Linked DNA regions of Homo sapiens. The main gene of each other region encodes a partner of the protein of the gene in region 2 in a complex. Each region holds a gene or a part of one and is shown on either strand. Other genes may lie near its edges.

Region 1 (7,043 bases), on a different chromosome or scaffold from region 2:
CACCTGTGATCCCAGCCACTCTGAAGGCTGAAGTGGGAGGGTCACTTGAGCCTGTGATCACACTACTGCACTCCAACCTAGGCGACAGAGAGAGACTGTCTCAAAAAAAAATGAACAAACAAACAAAAAACCCAAGAATTTCTCTTCTAGGTCTTTTTGTAAGAGCAGTTTCAGATGAGGGGGAAAAGAGAAAAGCAGCAAAAACTACTACCAAAAGGAAGAAAAAGGCCTAAAGAGGAAACACAGGAAACTGAAGATAAACTTGGCCTTGTTACAATTCTGAATTGGACTAGCCTTGTCTAGAAGTAACTTAAATAAATATTTTTCCTCTAAATTAGGATATACTTCCATAAATAAGTGTAGCAGACTCAAAATGACAATCTTGACAATAAACTATGTAAGATCAGAGGATTCAAATTTATTTTGAAATTCCTAGCAACCTTCTCCCCAGTGAAGATATACACATACACATTTTATGTCAAAACGAATATGCTTGGGGACTCCTTCTATTAGCTTATACCCAAATCCTATAATTGCATTTCTATATTTTAAAACCTATTATCTTACCTTTCTAATGGTTGCGACACATATTGTAGAAAGATTTAATGGGTCTATAGCTTCCAATTTCATTCCTTCCTTGAACCATTCCCCACTCTGGTCTACTTCTTTTACCTAAAGAATTATATGAAAGCACATCTACTGTTACAAATGTTGTTATTTTGATAATTAAAATATTACCAATGTGAAAAGATTTACCAGGTGCCTTCTCCTACCTACCTAATATTATAACTCAAACTTCCATTAAGGTTTAGAGAGAATTCAGACAAATAGAATTTAAGAATAATTATAATAAAGAGTTGTGACACCTATGAATTTACAAGGTCTTAATTCTTTTAAGTGAACATATGTAATTGTGATTTCCGTAATTTTAGGAAAAAACCCACAACCCTCTTTCAAACCTAATTTACAAATGAGGGTTCTTATAAAAACTTCTTACCTTAGCAAATAAATGTGGTGGTGTATCAAAATGTCCATCCTGTTTCTTTGTAATATCTACAAGGAAAAGTTACACACTAATCTGTCAGCATTTGTGAGAAGACCAAAAACCACGTTCTTTGAAGGCTTCAAACTCACAAAGTATGTCATACTATAAAACATGGCAAGAAGACATGCCTTCTACATTTGGGGTGAATATTCTTTAATAGTCTTTTCTCTCTTCAGAGTACATGTGCATATATGCTTTTAAATACATTCAGCCAATTTTAATGCTCATAATTTTAATGTAATTCCCTAGTTAGAAAATTACAACTTTAGAAGCATGTTTTCATGTGCTTAGTATTAAGTCTAACCACATTTAATCTTGCTATTTTGATTAAAATTGAATGGAAAGGGAAAGGTATCTTTAGATCTTTCAAATGGGCTGAATAATAAAAGAAAGAAACAATTATAGTTGTGACCAGAAGAAGTTCCTTCTTTTGGAGAACAAGTGGAAGGAATATAAAAAAATTTATTAGGACACTAATATGGTGTGAACCTTCACTAATTAAGGTAGAAGAAGCAGCCCAAACAACTAGAATGCTATTTTTCATCTATGCAATTCTGCAGAGAAAAATAACCAACTAGTATAATCAGCCTCAATGATGCTTTTGACAGGAGTTCTTGTGATAGGTGCTTACCAGATCTTTTGAATCGATGACCTATGCTTCGAGACCAACCAATATGATGTATTAATGGGCTGTGCATATGGCACCAGAAGTCATCTGTTCTATCTTCGCTTTCTTCATACACTAGTCTTAATCTTCCTCCAATTACACTTTCCACCACTGCTACTCGTGTTCGACACAAATGCCTCTTGTCAACCACTTCTACTCTCATGCAAGGTTTGAAAGGATACTGCATACTCTCTGAAACCTTAAAAGCATACAAAAAAAACTGCTCGAAATTCATGACAAAGGTCTACAAGAAATTTTTGTATTATACTGTAAAAAATACTGAATGCACTTGAAATGTAACACAGATCATCTGGTTCACAAAATTAAACCAATTCCTTAAAAATGTTCTCTGTTACCCTTGTTTTTTAGAGCTCTTCAGTCTTTATAAGATCCTGTTTTTTACCTTTTGGGAGAAATCAGGAGGCAGTGTTTTGGCACCAGTAAGTCGTTTCACTAGAAAAGCTTTCCAGTTTGTATATTTATGCTGAATAGCTAAAATAGAAGAAATAATCAGTTATACTTTAGCAAAAAAGAACTGCTTCATAAATTATTTGTTAAAAAAGTAACAAATTTCCTTGCAAAGTCAGGCTATTAACATTCTGAAAAGTAACAAATATAGAGAAAGCAAGTATATGCCTTGCCAGCAAAAAGCTGCTTAACACCAAAAAAACTATTTTAATTTCTTTCTTTTTTTTTGAGATGGAGTCTCGCTCTGTTGCCCAGGCTGGAGTGCAGTGGCGTGATCTTGGCTCACTGCAACCTCCATCTCCCCGGTTCAAGCGATTCTTCTGCCTCAGCCTCCTGAGTACAGGCATGCACCACCATGCCCAGCTAGGGAGAAGTTGAGATGGGGTTTTGCCATGTTGGTCAGGCTGGTCTCAAACTCCTGACCTCAAGTGATCCGACTGCCTTGGCCTCCCAAAGTGCTGGGATTACAGGTGTGAGCGGCCATGCCCGGCCTTTAATTTCCATATTACTCTAACATTACTATGTGTAAAATAGCATTAAAGTACACATATAAAAAAATTACGGTAAGGGTAAATAAACTACTTACTTCTAGGAGGAACAAGAGGTTTTCCGCTGGCTGCACACCAACCAACTGGATGGATATCAGAACCACATATATTGCACCAGAAGTCCAGACCAGAGTCATTTTCAAATCCTTCATATCTTAAAAGGGCATTGTAACCTGAAACCCAGAAATAAATCACTACATAATAAGAAAATAAAATTAAATAAAACAATACAGCATCTGATAGCAGTTGTCAAACTAGTGTCTATCTGCAATACAATCACCTGCAGGGTTTGTTAACAGACAGATGGCTGGGTCTCACTCCAGAGATTCTGATTTTGTAGATCTTGGGTGGGAACTGAGAATATGCCTTTTTAACAAGTCCTCAGGTGATGCTGTTGCTGCTGGTCTATGAACCAAACTTTGAGAACCATCTGTTCAGTGCAAACAGTTCAACTGTTTTCAGAGCATGGCATCCTTACATGTATTTCAATTGTACCCATAATTTCTTTTTCTTTTCTTTTTTGAGATGGAGTCTTGCTCTGTTGCCTAGGCTGGAGTGCAGTGGTGCAATCTTGCCTTACTACAACCTTGGCCTCCTGGGTTCAAGCGATTCTCCTACCTCAGCCTCCTAAGTAGCTGGGATTATAGGCATATATATGTAATTATACATATAACATACATATTTATGTATAAGCATATAAACATATAAAAATACATATTATATATTTATTTATATTATATATAATTATATATATATATATATTTTATGAAGACAGGGTCTTGCTCTATCGCCCAGGCTGGAGTGCAGTGGTGTGATCTTGGCTCACTGCAACCTCTGCCTCCTGGGTTCAAGTGATTCACCTGCCTCAGCCTCTTGAGTAGCTGGGATTACAGGCGTGCGCCACCATGCCCAGCTAATTTTTGTATTTTGTAGAGATGGGGTTTCACCATGTTGGCCAGGCTAGTCTCGAACTCTCAACCTCAGGTGATCTGCCCGCCTTGGCCTCCCAAAGGGCTGGGATTACAGGCATGAGCCACTGTGCTTGGCCTTGAAATGTATTTCAAAGAAATTGCTTTATCCAGCTGCTTAGGTGGCCAATTACTCCTGGGTAATTTGAATGTGGCTACTTTAAGAATCTAAATTTTTCTGTCGTATGTATTTGGAAATAAGATTTGAATATGCCAGGTAAAAAGTTCAATAAACACAAAGAAAATTATGTAAAATGAGTTAAAAACTATGTCTTAGGCAAATAGGAAGGCTTACTCTTGGAAAGTACAAAAAATATGTAATATATCCTATTTATAATTCTATAAACTTTATGTTGATAAAAGATTACGATTTAATTTAAGGCCTTTAATGAAACAGAAAAAGGCCAATATATGTGTATTTCAGGTTAGGAGACAAGTTTAGTCAGCATTTTCATGTTTGTGAAAATTTATAGCCTTAAATGTTCAGTTTTAAAATTCAATAATTTCTCAGAACAATTTATGAGTTTGCTAATTACTGCTGAACTCTAGCTTCTGGTTAACATTAGGCTCACTTCTACAATGGCATTAAAGTGGCTTAAAAGAAGATACATGATGCAGTTAGATAAAACAGAAATGTAAAATCGGAGATGGAAGGCAGAAGTAATTTTTGGATAGTAAATGCACTGATCTTAAGAGCTATTTAAATGTAACTAACTTAAACACCCAGGGCAAAAATAATATGCTGTTGTTTTAAATTACAGTGTAGAGAATAATACAAGCATTTAGTGAATGCTTATACAGCTGGGAAAATGTTTCAAGAAAAAGATGGGGAATTGACTTGGGTAGTAGTACAGTTCAGTACAGAGATGGGACACTCTTGCAAGAGTAACCCAAGGCACAGAGGTGACAAAAACGTGCTGTATGAAAGGGAGAGGGAGACTGGCCTCATCACAACAGATCATTTATGCTGGAGAACTACAATACATCTGGCATGTGGTATATGGTGCAACTCATCAATAGTCATAAATGCTGGCTATCTTGATCCTTTAAGTACAAAGAGGCCATAAAAGATGCTTGAACAGAAAAATAAAATTAAAATAATTTTTAGGTAAATTAAGTCAATTAGCAGTACACAACAGAGCAGTCTACAGTGTGTTTTGAGGAGAATGCCGGAAATAAAACTAGAGAGAGTGGGAGGAGTTAAAAATCTGTCACAGTAGTAATTGAAGATAACTTTTCTTATGAGTGGCTGCCTGCCTCTCCTCCACAATGCCCTACTACACTACTCACTGAGTATCTTGTCATATTAATACCTGGTAGTAGTCAACATTTGGCCGATGTGAACATGCTGGAAAAAATACAAGTCTTATACTTCTGGATATCATCTTTTGTCCACATTGTCTACCATAGTAGATTCCTAACATGTTTACTTCATGAGCAGTAAAGGGCTTGGTATGGTGGAGGCAGTGGGAATAAACAGAACGGAAGAACCCAAGATATATAAAATTATCAACACTTGTATCAATTTGGTATTAAGGTTCTTACCACTTTATTTTTATTTTTTTAAAATGGAGAATGGGTCTCGCTATTTTGCCCAGGTGGGTCTTGAACTCCTAGGCTCAAGCTAACCTCCCGCCTCTGCCTCCCTAAAAGCTGGGATTACAGGCATGAGTCACTGTGGCCAGCTCTTACCACTTTTTTTAGTACCTCAACTTTTGTTACTTTTCAAAGTAACATATACATTATGGCCTATATATCTGGTCTATTGCTGGATTATTTTTATGGCTGTGATCTAAGAATTACTTTTACATTTTTAATGGTTGAAAAGAAAAAAAGGATATTTCATGATACATAACTATTATATGAAATTCAAATTTCCTGTAAATAAAGTTCTACTGGAACACAATCATGTCCATTTGTTTATGTATTGCTAAGGGTGCTTTCATGCTATAATGATAGAGACGGATAGCTGTGACAGAGATCATATGGCCTGCAAAGTTGAAAATATTTGTTTGGCTTTTCACAGAAAACAATTTGCCAACCCCTGCCCTATATCATAACATATTTTTTATTTGGCAATACTTGCAAAATTTATAAACATGCTTTTTTTACGAAAGGTTACAAGGATCTCTGCATTTTCTACTAAACTATTATTCATGCTTTTCACCTGCTAATTTTACAATTCCAGCAATCCAGAAGACTTTGGTAGGTAGGCTGCAGTCTGTATTGGGAACTTCTACTCTCACATTTTCTGAGATATCACCCCAGCAGGTCCCCATAGGTGCCTGTCACATAAAAATCATTAAATTATTGTCTTATTAACATAAAGCCTAAAACATATCAATGAAAATTAAGCAGTACCATCAATAATAGGAATATTAAACTAAAAATGTCATTTTAATTCCGTTTGTTTCCTAGAATTCTATCTGGAAAAAGCCAGTTTCAGGGACAAACAAGATAAAGAGAAAATTCACATATATTAGACTAGATTCATGCTGACTTCAAAATCTGATACTGTCCTAATATGAGATTTAAGCAGCGATTTTTCTATGAGTGGAATTACAAACTCAATAGCAGATTTAATAGGATTAAACTGATTTAAGAAATTTTTAATATGTACTGAGTGAATACACTTCACCCTAATTTCTACTTTTAAAAGATCTGGCCTAAGAGCAGAAAGAAAAACAATTCCAATCAGCAGTGTGGTTTCCAACAACATGAATAAGAGAAATGAAAATTTTCAATTTAAATTAAATTCATAGATTAGAAATCTAGTCCACATAGATGGACGTGAGGGAAAAGCACTGGATAAAGTTATTAAGAAGGTGGAGTTGAAGAGTTTTGGAGATGAGTACCATGGTAAACTATTTAAATTATTATTTCAAAATTTCTCATGTAGAAATTACTATAAAGAGAAAACTTCCAATGTTAGAACCGGTAATCACTAGCCTCCCACAGCAAATGGTTAAGATGGGGACTCGGAAAATCAATTAAATGAGCATCATGAAGGGATTTTCTGAAATCTAACAGATGTTCCCAAAGTATTGTTTCCATTATATTTTAATCTTTAAAACTCAAGGCAATTCACAATTACTTGGAACTTATGCAATGGTAAATTAAATCAAATAAGCAAATTTAAGAATATAAATGCTGATAACACTAAACAGTTTGTGTTGCTCTGGACAGTCAGTTCCTCATTCAATTTAGAATGTTGATCATAAAGAAAAGGATTATGTGAGGTTATAAAAGACTTGATAGTATGAACAAATCAGGAAAAACCAAAATAGCCTCAAAGCTCAAAGATGAGCAAAGATATCTAGGAGTTACATGAACTAGCCAATTTGAAC
Region 2 (7,043 bases):
CTAAGGGTGCAGAGCCTGGAGGAAGGGTGTCAGGAATCCCAGGAAACGAGGTGACTGGGGTACTCGGCAAAGTCCCGGGGGTTACCTAAGAGACAACAGAGAACCTTTATCTGACTTCTCAAACTATGGAAGGTTCCCTACTAATCTGTATGGGTTAGTGTGTCTAACTATTATTTTATTAGTCCTGAGTGGAATTGCCCAGAAACCCTCTATCCCTCCTGCTCTTAGCCATACTTTTCTTCCCCACAATCTTCTCTTTCATCCACTCAAACCCACAGTGACTCAACCATCCCACCCAACCTGCCTTTTATGAACTCCTTACCCACTACCAATATTACATTTACAAGGATTTTGTCCCTTATTTCAGCAGGAATTTCATAAGACTAGTATGAAACAATTTCTTAAAATAGTTTTTTACCTATCTCTCAAAAAGGTCAAAAGCCTCAATGCTTTTAGGTCCGTTCTTATCTCAGAGCACAGAACATGGTAAATTAAGTCTTTAGCATTCAGATCAAGAGAGGAAGTTGCCTCTAGGCCAAAAGTGGTTTCCTCATCGCTCAGCTCTGCCGGCTTATTGCCCCTTCACTGATCAATTCCCACAGATGGAAATATACTCACCCCAGAGGTAGCCTCTTCCATAGTGGTTGGAGTCAAGTCCCCAAGTGGATAATCACCTCCTGGGGAGGCAGAATCTATAGGAGAGCGAACCATCACAGTGGGTAACCTCCGGGGGGGTGTTTTTACTGCTTGACGAGCTAGAACATAAAAGAGAACAATGTCCAAATCTTCAAGATTAAATAAATGAAACTTGACACTAGTCTGCTATTATACAATAAAGGACAAATAGGTATGTTGCATTACTAAAGCAGCATAATAAGTTTGGATTAGAAAGCTTTAACACTTCTAGAGATGGATAACTTTTTAGCCTAATTTTTCCTAAGGGCAATTCTCACACTAAGAAACTCCTTTAACAATCTCAAACTACTTAATTATCCCAAAGGTCCTTGGAGTGGGAAAGTAGTTTAAACATCCTTTAATATTCTCTTTAGCAACTTACTAATATTCTGCTTTTAAGAACAGGAAGGCCAGGTGCAGTGGCTCACGGCTGTAATCCCAGCACTTTGGGAGGCCAAGGCAGGTGGATCACCTGAGGTCAGGAGTTTGAGACCAGCCTGCGAAACCCCATCTCTACTAAAAATACAAAAATTAGCTAGGTGTGGTGGCAGCCGCCTGTAATGCCAGCTACTCGGGAGGCTGAGGCAGGAGAATCACTTGAACCCGCGAGGCGGAGGTTGCAGTGACCCAAGATCGCGCCACTGCACTCCAGCCTGTGCAGCAAGAGCAAAACTCCGCCTGGGGGAAAAACAAAAAACAAAAACAGGGAAAGACCTCACTGGCGCACAGCATGTATTCCTAGAGTTGTAAATGCTTAAATTTCTCCTCATCTAATGACTGAGCTATTCTCAATCTTTTCACAGGCCCTTGACTTCTAAAACATTATGTTCAATATCTCATCAAGCCTTTGTGTCCTGAAGTTAATTTAAGGTCTAGTGAGATCTGAGCACAACGCATGTTCTAGGAGTTTCTTCTTAAGACATTAAGGGATGTTTTTATTCTGGTAGAAGAGAAAACTGCAAGTAAATTTAAATCAATGTATTCTATGTTACAAAACAGTCCAACTGTCATTAGCATGCAGTACTGTGCAATCAATTGCTAAAGAGGCATACTAGGTTCAGCTTACCCTGGTATGCAGCATCTGTAGCCTTCCTCTTTACTTCAGCCTCCTCTTCTTCCAATTTCTTTTTCCTAAACAGGGAATTAAGGGTTAGATGCTAGACAGCTCTGGCTCCTCCCCAGAGTTCACAGAACCCTTACAAAGTAATTTTTTTTGCCAGGCCAGCACTTTCTGGAAGAAAGGCCTAAACAGGAATTCTAACCAGCAAAACAGTGAATTGGGGTATACTGCCTAACTCCCAGTTCTTCACCCAGGCAAACTATAGCCACTCTTAAGTTAGAACTAAGTTATGTTTTCATACTGAAATGTCCCATTATATTACCTTCTAGGACTCACTCCCCCCTCCCAGCCACCAAACCACTTTGCAGCTTTCCCCTTCCAGAATCTGTCTCAAGTCTAAAGGGACGGCAATTGGAGGAAATAAGCCAGATTACTTGAGGGGAAAAGAGGGTAAAAAGAAAGAAGCACAGAAGAACAATATAATATAACCCACGTTGCAATGTCATTGCAAAGCTCATCCAGTCTGCTGTCCATGTGTCCAGCTTGAATTAGTTCTGCATCTCTCTTTAGCCGTCTATAGGAAGAAAGAGAGGTAGGTAGACTGGGTTTTTTAATCTGCTATTTTAAAAGTTCTGACCAGTACCAGAAGACAGTCCCTTATGTCTTTCTCAATTTTTTGGCATTCTCTCTGATAAGTACCTATATCTCTCCTGGGTTTCCTTTATCACTTTCTTTAGTTCTTCAACTCGCTCAGCAGTCAATTTCCGAACAATAACATCTTCAACAGTTTCCACCACTTCTCCCTTTTCACCTCGTTTCCGTCTGTGGAAAATTGAAAAAAAAAAATTCATATTCAAATAACATAACATTTATCCCCTCTCCTACTTGCTTTTACCACTTAATCATAGATAACTTCTGCTATTTTTTAATCATCCAGTATCATAACTAAGTATAAACCAGAATTCCTCAGTAAATACTCTCCACTAAAGAAATATGGCTGAAGTACCTGGCTTTGTACTCACTTTGGTGTCTCAGTGGTCTCTAAAAGCTCCGAGTACTGGGAAGCACAATGCTATTAAAAAAAAAAAAAAAAGTGAAAATGTGATGAGCAAGGCTGGAAAGAAATGACCTTTCAAAGTTTCAAGAGATTAGAGTAAGATTTAGAGAAGAGAACTATATGTAAGACGGGAGTGGTTTACTAGGAGGGCAAGTAACTTTATAATCAAATCAGTTCAAAATAATCAAAACAAGACACAGAAAAAGACAGTCTTATGGACTGGAGTTTGTGCATTTGCGGAAAGGCAACCTAACTGCCAATATTTATAGCTAATATCTACCAAGTAGTTACTACATGCAAGGCACTGTGTTAAATGTTTTACATGTATTACTTCAATTAGCTTCACAACAATCCTGAAGCAACTCTTTTATCTCTATTTTACAAATGAAAAAACAGAGGATCATGGCCCAAAGTTTTTAGATGGAGTAATAATGAACCCAGATCTAATTCCCAAGCTTGGGCTCTTAACTGTTATGCAACACCAATAAGAAAGGTCTAATATGATCATACATGGATGGATTAGCAAACAGTAGGAAAAAGAAAAAGGTATTCTCAACTATTTTCCCACATCATGGTATAAAAGCTTTGTAACTAAAAGTCAGGGCCTGGTAGAGAACCTACTTTACAACCCAAAGACTGCTCTAAAAGAGCCCTTGCTTGGGAACTTACTTTTTGAGAGAACCAGTCTGGAGGGCGGCCAGGTTCTGCAAAGGGCTTGATTGCTCTGCTAACTGATACCCTACAAAATGAGGAAAGCTTTATTACACACCAAGCAGAAAACAATAGGAGAGGTATGCTGAGAGTGCAAGGCTTGGAGTTCAAACTTTGGAATAAAAAAGATGCGAATGGCCAGGCGCGGTGGCTCACGCCTGTAATCCCAGCACTTTGGGAGGCCAAGACGGGTGGATCACAAGGTCAGGAGATCAATACCAACCTGGCCAACATGGTGAAACCCCGTCTCTACTAAAAATACAAAAATTAGTTGGGCATGGTGGCATGCACCTGTAGTCCCAGCTACTCGGGAGGCTGAGGCAGGAGAATCTCTTGAACACAGGAGGCGGAGGTCACAGTGGGCCGAGATCTCACCACCGCACTCCAGCCTGGGGACAGAGTGAGACTCCATCTCAAAAAAAAAAAAAAAAAAAAAAAAAGCCAATGAATGCGAGGTGTGCAATGGACCGTGCCTGTAATCCCAGCACTCTGGGAGGCAGAGGTGGGAGGACAGCTCAAGCCCAGGAGTTCAAGCCACCCGAGGAGATCCCATCCCTACAAAAAAAAAAAAAAAAAAAAAAAAAAAAAATCGACAAGGTATGGTGGTGCGTACCTGCGGCCTGTGGTCCCAGCTACTTGGGCAGCTGAGGTAGGAGGATCCCTTGAGCCCAGGAAGTCAAGAGGCTGCAGTGAGCCCAAATCGCGCCACTGCACTCCAGCCTGGGTGACAGAGTAAGACCACCCCCTCCGCCATTCAAAAAAAAAAGAACAGCATATATAGTATATAATCATTTGTGTTAGAAAATGAGGGGGATGAAGGGGAAAAAGAAAATATTTGCTCACATAAAATTTTGCTGGAGAGACACAAGAAACTGCTAACACTAGTAGACGGGGGATAGTAACGGGAGGAAGACACTGCATATAATTTTGAATCTTATGACTTAGTATCTGCTGATAAAATAATAAAATTTAAAACTTTTACTCAAGTATTCTTATACTATTTTTCTATGGCTGGGCGTGGTGACTCACGCCTGTAATCCCAACACTTCGGGAGGTCGAGGAGGGCAGACTGCTTGAGATGAGGAGTTTGAGACCAGCCTGGCCAATGTGGTGAAACCCCACCTCTACTAAAAATACAAAAATTAGCCAGGCATGGTGGCGTGCACCTTTAATCCCAGCTACTCGGGAGGCTGAGCCAGGACAATCACTTAAATCCAGGAGGTGGAGGTTGCAGTGAGCCGAGATCGTGCCACTGCATTCCAACCTGGGTGACACAGTGAGACTCCATCTCAAAAAAAAAAAAAGATTCTTAACACTATTTATCTAATAAAAATGTGAGGAAATATACAGATTAGATTCTATTTCAAACCAGTTTACCTGTTTTGTTTAAAAATGAGCTCAATTTATATACATATACAAATATATGTGATGTGTATACACACACACACACACACATACAAAACACACATTGTTTTTGTTTAGACAGTATCTCACTTTGTCACCCAGACTTCAGTGCAGTGGCACAATCATGGCTTGCTGTTGCTTCCACCTCTGAGGCTTAGGCAACCTCCCACTGCAGCCCCACCCAAGTAGCTGAAATCACAGATGCACCATCATGCCTGGCTAATTTTCTTTTTTGTAGGGAACAGTTTCTCTTATGTTGCCTCCCTGGCTCAAGCCATCCTCACACCTCAGCCTCCCGAGTAGCTGGAACTATAGGCACACACCACCAGACCTGGCTAGTATTTTTGTGTTTTTTTATAGTTTTGTCATATTGCCCAGACTGGTCTCCAATTCATGATCTCAAGCAACCTCCTGCCTTGGCCTCCCAAAGTTCTGGGATTATAGATGTGAGCCATTGCACCCAGCCCCATTCTATTCTCTAGTTCTGTGAGGTCTATAATTTTTCCTAGATTCCACATATAACTGAGATCATATGGTATTTCTTTATGTGTCTGGCTTATTTCACTTTACATACTATCCTCCAGGCTCAACCATGGAATCACAAATGGAGGATTTAATTCTTTTTTATGGCTCAACAGTATTCCATTGTGTGTGTGTGTGTGTGTGTGTGTATACATATATATTTTTTCTTTACCCATTCATCTGTTAATGGATACTATAATAATTACCTTAATTGTGGATAGTTTCACAAATGTATATATATTTCAAAAATACCATGTCTTATGCTCTAAATGTGTGCACTGGCCGGGTGTCGTAGCTCATGCCTGTAATCCCGGCACTTTGGGAGGCCGAGGCAGGTGGATCATCTGAGGTCAGGAGTTCAAGACCAGCCTGGCCAACATGGTAAAACCCTATCTCTACCAAAAAATACAAAAATTAGCCAGGCATGGTGGCAAAGGCCTGTAGTCCCAGCTACACGGGAGGCTGAGGTGGGAGAATCACTTGAACCTGGGAAGCAGAGGTTCCAGTGAGCCAAGATTGCACCACTGCACTCCAGCCTGCGCAACAGAGACTCCATCTCAAAAAAAAAAAAAAGGTGCAGTTTACTGCACATCAATTATATCACAAAAAAGTTGTTAAAAGGGAAGAGATGTGACTTTTCTTACCAACCCCCTTCCTTCTTGTTGCATGGAACAAGGATGTGATAGCTGAAGGTCAAGCAGCCACCGTGAACCATAAGATAACCAGAAGATAAACTATGCACTGAGGAAGGTGGAACAGAAAGAGAATATCCTGAGCCTCTAATGTCACTGTGAAGTTGCTATGAGAGCTGTGGACTGCCTAGACTTCCTGTATGTGTGACAAAAAATAAACTCAAGTTTTTTTTTTTTTTTTTTGAGATGGCGTCTTGCTCTGTTGCCCAGGCTGGAGTGCAGTGGCACGATCTCAAATCACTGCAAGCCCCGCCTCCTGGGTTCACACCATTCTCCTGCCTCAGCCTCCTGAGTAGCTGGGACTACAGGCGCACGCCGCCACACCTGATTTTTGTATTTTTAGTAGAGACGGGGTTTCACCGTGTTAGCCAGGATGGTCTCAATCTCCTGACCTTGTGATCCGCCCACCTCGGCCTCCCAAAGTGCTGGGATTACAGGCGTGAGCCACTGCGCCCGGCCTTAAACTTAAGTTTTTAACCCATTTCTTTGTTGCTATTGCTTTCTATATAGTGTTTTTGTTTTTATGGTGGCCACATATTACTTCAAAAATTAGATTTAAAAAACAAACAAAAAAAATGCTAGGAAGCATGACAATCAGCAAAGTACTGAATTGTTTATAAATGTGGCAAGAGAGTTAAATTCATAATGGATGATTCAAAAGAAAGGGGGTGAGGGGCTGATACCGAGAAAGGTAAAATGATGATAGTTCTAGGCTGGGAGTGATGGCTCACGCCTATAATCCTAGCACTTTAGGAGGCTAAGGTGGGAGGATCACTTGAGCCCAGGAGTTCAAGACCAGCCTGGGCAACAAGTGACAAAAAACACAAAAAATTAGTCAAGCATGGTGGCAAGGGTCTGTATTCCCAACTACTCAGGATGCTAAACTGGGAGGATCACTTGAGGCCAAGAGTTGGAGACCAGC
Region 3 (2,983 bases), on a different chromosome or scaffold from region 2:
TCAGTAATCAATTTCCCTGCCTCCCAGTGTTCTCCCAGTGCTTTGTGTATCCATTACAGCATTCATCAAGATAACACATTTAACATGTCTGCCCCCACCAACTCCCCCCACACACACATATAATACCTTCATCTGTATATTCTCAGAATCTAGGTGCTTAGTATTTGTAAAGTTAAAGAATATTTTTAAGGGTCTTTTTTTCTCTTAAAACCCATCTGCTAAAAAATAAATGTATTTTTATCTGTGAGAGCTGAGGGGAAACCATTGCAATGTCTACACATTAAGGAGTATCTTATACCCCTTTATAACCCAAGTTTGTTAGACATTTATTTGCATAAGATTAAAATAATTAATTAGGTCAATAAGACCATTCCTAAAGTCTAAAGACAAAGGGCACTAATATTGCACAAACCTAAGATGGTTAAAAACCTAAAACGTGGAATTTGCTTTAAAGGAGAAGAGAACAAAAAAATATAAACTGCCCTTGAAAAGAATGATTGTATGCTTATCAAACACTCAGCCTCATTTTGGCATTTAATTAAGCCATTTATTGCTTCAAATGTGTCACCATGAACATTTTGATATACACTCCATAGCAGTAAGGCCTCAATTTTCACCACCTGTGAACTGTGAACCCACATTTGGATATTTTGTCCCAACTGTTACATGAGTTTTGTACAACAGAGATTTTGAATGTGTATTTTATAATACCAAAAATACTTACTATGCCCCTTGGTGTAAATGTCACAAAGAATATTAATAGTTGGCCACATTTTTGGGGGGTTGATGAGGTAGTTCCATGTTTGGCCCCATTATATATGACTCAGATATTAACAGGTTCTACCCATTACTAAATACCTGCACCAAATTTTGGTTTCTTTCTTTACACATGCTTCATAAAATATTCAGTGTTTGAGTTTAAAACTTGTCAAAGTGTTTTCTAAGTGATTTGGTAAGGAGTGGAATTCACACTGAAAGGGGATGTAGCAGCTGGATAACAGGATGTTCCTGACTCAGACAAAGAACTTTCTCTTCAAATAAGGCTGTACATAAGGCTTTTTCCTTTGACCATTTCTATAAAATGAATGAGTTTGGAATAGTCATAATATATAGAGGATGTAAATGATACATGTGAGCATTTCCAGGCAATATACTTTGATAAACGAATTGAATACTACATTATTTATCACTTCTTAAAGGGTTATAAAATCTCAAAATATTGAGTATCATGAAATCGTGATAATCATGATATTATGAAATGATGAGTACTCACAAATGAACCTAACTTGTTTAGGGAGCTGGTAGAGTTGTATAATCAGACTGTGGCAGCTCAGAATCATGGGATCTCAAAGGTGGAAGAGATCTTTGAAATCCCCTATCTACCTCACACCCTTTGGGTAGCACTGCATAGATTTTACACTGTTATCTGAATAAGTTCTAAGAAGCTCATAAGTGGTTTAATTAAAGCAGAAATCTGATGGACCCAGTAAGTTTCAATATAAAATATATATGATATATTAAGTATCTTAAAAGTTAAGGATTTTTCTATCGACCAGACTCAATATTATACTTTAAATAAAACCTCCACTATGCAAATTTATAATTTAAATAGCACCTTAGAATAAGATCTATTCTGCAGTCAGCATCACCCTGGTGTAGTAAGGCCCAGAGTGATACAAAATTTGAATTAACTGTCATATCAGTAAGTGGTAGAATCAAAAATAGCTCAATTTGGAGCTCCCGACCAGGGGGGTCTCTTTACTCTATTTGGCTACATTGCCTCCAGTCAAAACACCCATAACCATTATTTTCGTTTTAACTGCTATACTTACACTTCTTTCATGTCTTTTAGACTGAAGGAAAAGCCAGATGATGTTCTTAAAAAAATACATTGGCATTTCAAATTTACATTAAAAATGTCTTTCCTGTATTCTTATATCACAAACTCTAAACATCATTAAAGACATCACAGATTACACAGTATTCTGTGTCCTGGGTCTCTGATTCTTTTTAGATTATGAAAGTTGAAAGTTAATTGGAATTCAGAAATTTTCATTATTAAGTATGTAAAGTATAAATACAAGTAATTTTTTAAAAACTTTATTTTAACACCTAATACAATTGCAATTTTAAGGATTACTTGCACAAAAAAATAAACACATTTGGTATAAAAATGTATCACTTTAACGCCCTTTCCCCTTCAGTCCCCCGCCCCCTCCCTCATGAACTGCACTCTATCTGGATGCAGAAACATAGAAAGACTAATGGCACAAATTACTTTTTACCTACAGGAGTTTCTGTTTATGTACCCAGGTACTCTAGAGGATACCAGCCCACATTATCACATGAACCATTTCCTTCAGCCTGCTGAATTAGTTTCACAAAGAAACAAAGCTTATTATAAAGGCATTTTAAAAACCATTATCTTAAATTCTTTTTAGAAGCACTGACTTTTTTTTTTTTTTGCAACCATTTATATACAGTGTTACATAACAGCTCTGGAGTACAGTACATGCAGCAGAATATACCTGTTGAATATAAAATACTTTCCTTAAAATCTTCATCATTGGAATTCCTTGAAGTCTAAATCATAGAATGCCCATTACTTTGAGAAAATGGTTGAGGAGTACAAATGTCTGCATATGTTGGCCACTGAAATAATCCAAGGCTAACTGGAATAATATTCATAGCACACCAGGAGTGCATAAATAATTTACTTACATTATTAAAATACAACCCATAAAATTCAAGTTCAAGATCTTATAGGATTGTCTATGTAAATCCTTTAAGTGGTTGCCTGGAAATGCATTGTTTCTTCTTTCTCTTCTCTTCTTTTTAAAGTCCTATATAAAATCTTCAGCTGAAGTTTATTTCTTCATCAAACAAAAGGACCACCTTTATTTGTGTCTGCTGCCTCTTCTCTTCATTGCAGCAGTGCACTGTGGACAGTACCATTTGCCTTTTGGTGCCTCTGTCAATCCAA

Evidence for each region. Proteins that work in one complex are often made in the same cells at the same time.
Region 1: BRD8 (region 2) and MBTD1 share a complex: the UniProt entries of both Homo sapiens proteins name them as parts of the nuA4 histone acetyltransferase complex.
Region 3: BRD8 (region 2) and ING3 share a complex: the UniProt entries of both Homo sapiens proteins name them as parts of the SWR1-like complex.

The regions. Positions count from the first base shown.
Region 1 is NC_000017.11:51,201,025-51,208,067, forward strand, and holds part of MBTD1 (MBT domain-containing protein 1), read right to left. Parts: intron 5,982-7,043; coding exon 5,864-5,981; intron 2,902-5,863; coding exon 2,767-2,901; intron 2,205-2,766; coding exon 2,116-2,204; intron 1,912-2,115; coding exon 1,677-1,911; intron 1,054-1,676; coding exon 998-1,053; intron 673-997; coding exon 568-672; intron 1-567. UniProt on the Homo sapiens protein: Chromatin reader component of the NuA4 histone acetyltransferase complex, a multiprotein complex involved in transcriptional activation of select genes principally by acetylation of nucleosomal histones H4 and H2A.
Region 2 is NC_000005.10:138,168,604-138,175,646, forward strand, and holds part of BRD8 (bromodomain-containing protein 8), read right to left. Parts: intron 3,532-7,043; coding exon 3,462-3,531; intron 2,808-3,461; coding exon 2,758-2,807; intron 2,558-2,757; coding exon 2,435-2,557; intron 2,310-2,434; coding exon 2,229-2,309; intron 1,807-2,228; coding exon 1,742-1,806; intron 756-1,741; coding exon 619-755; intron 86-618; coding exon of another isoform or gene 1-85. UniProt on the Homo sapiens protein: May act as a coactivator during transcriptional activation by hormone-activated nuclear receptors (NR). Isoform 2 stimulates transcriptional activation by AR/DHTR, ESR1/NR3A1, RXRA/NR2B1 and THRB/ERBA2.
Region 3 is NC_000007.14:120,974,759-120,977,741, reverse strand, and holds the end of ING3 (inhibitor of growth protein 3), read right to left. Parts: coding exon 2,898-2,983; 3' UTR 526-2,897; downstream 1-525. UniProt on the Homo sapiens protein: Component of the NuA4 histone acetyltransferase (HAT) complex which is involved in transcriptional activation of select genes principally by acetylation of nucleosomal histones H4 and H2A.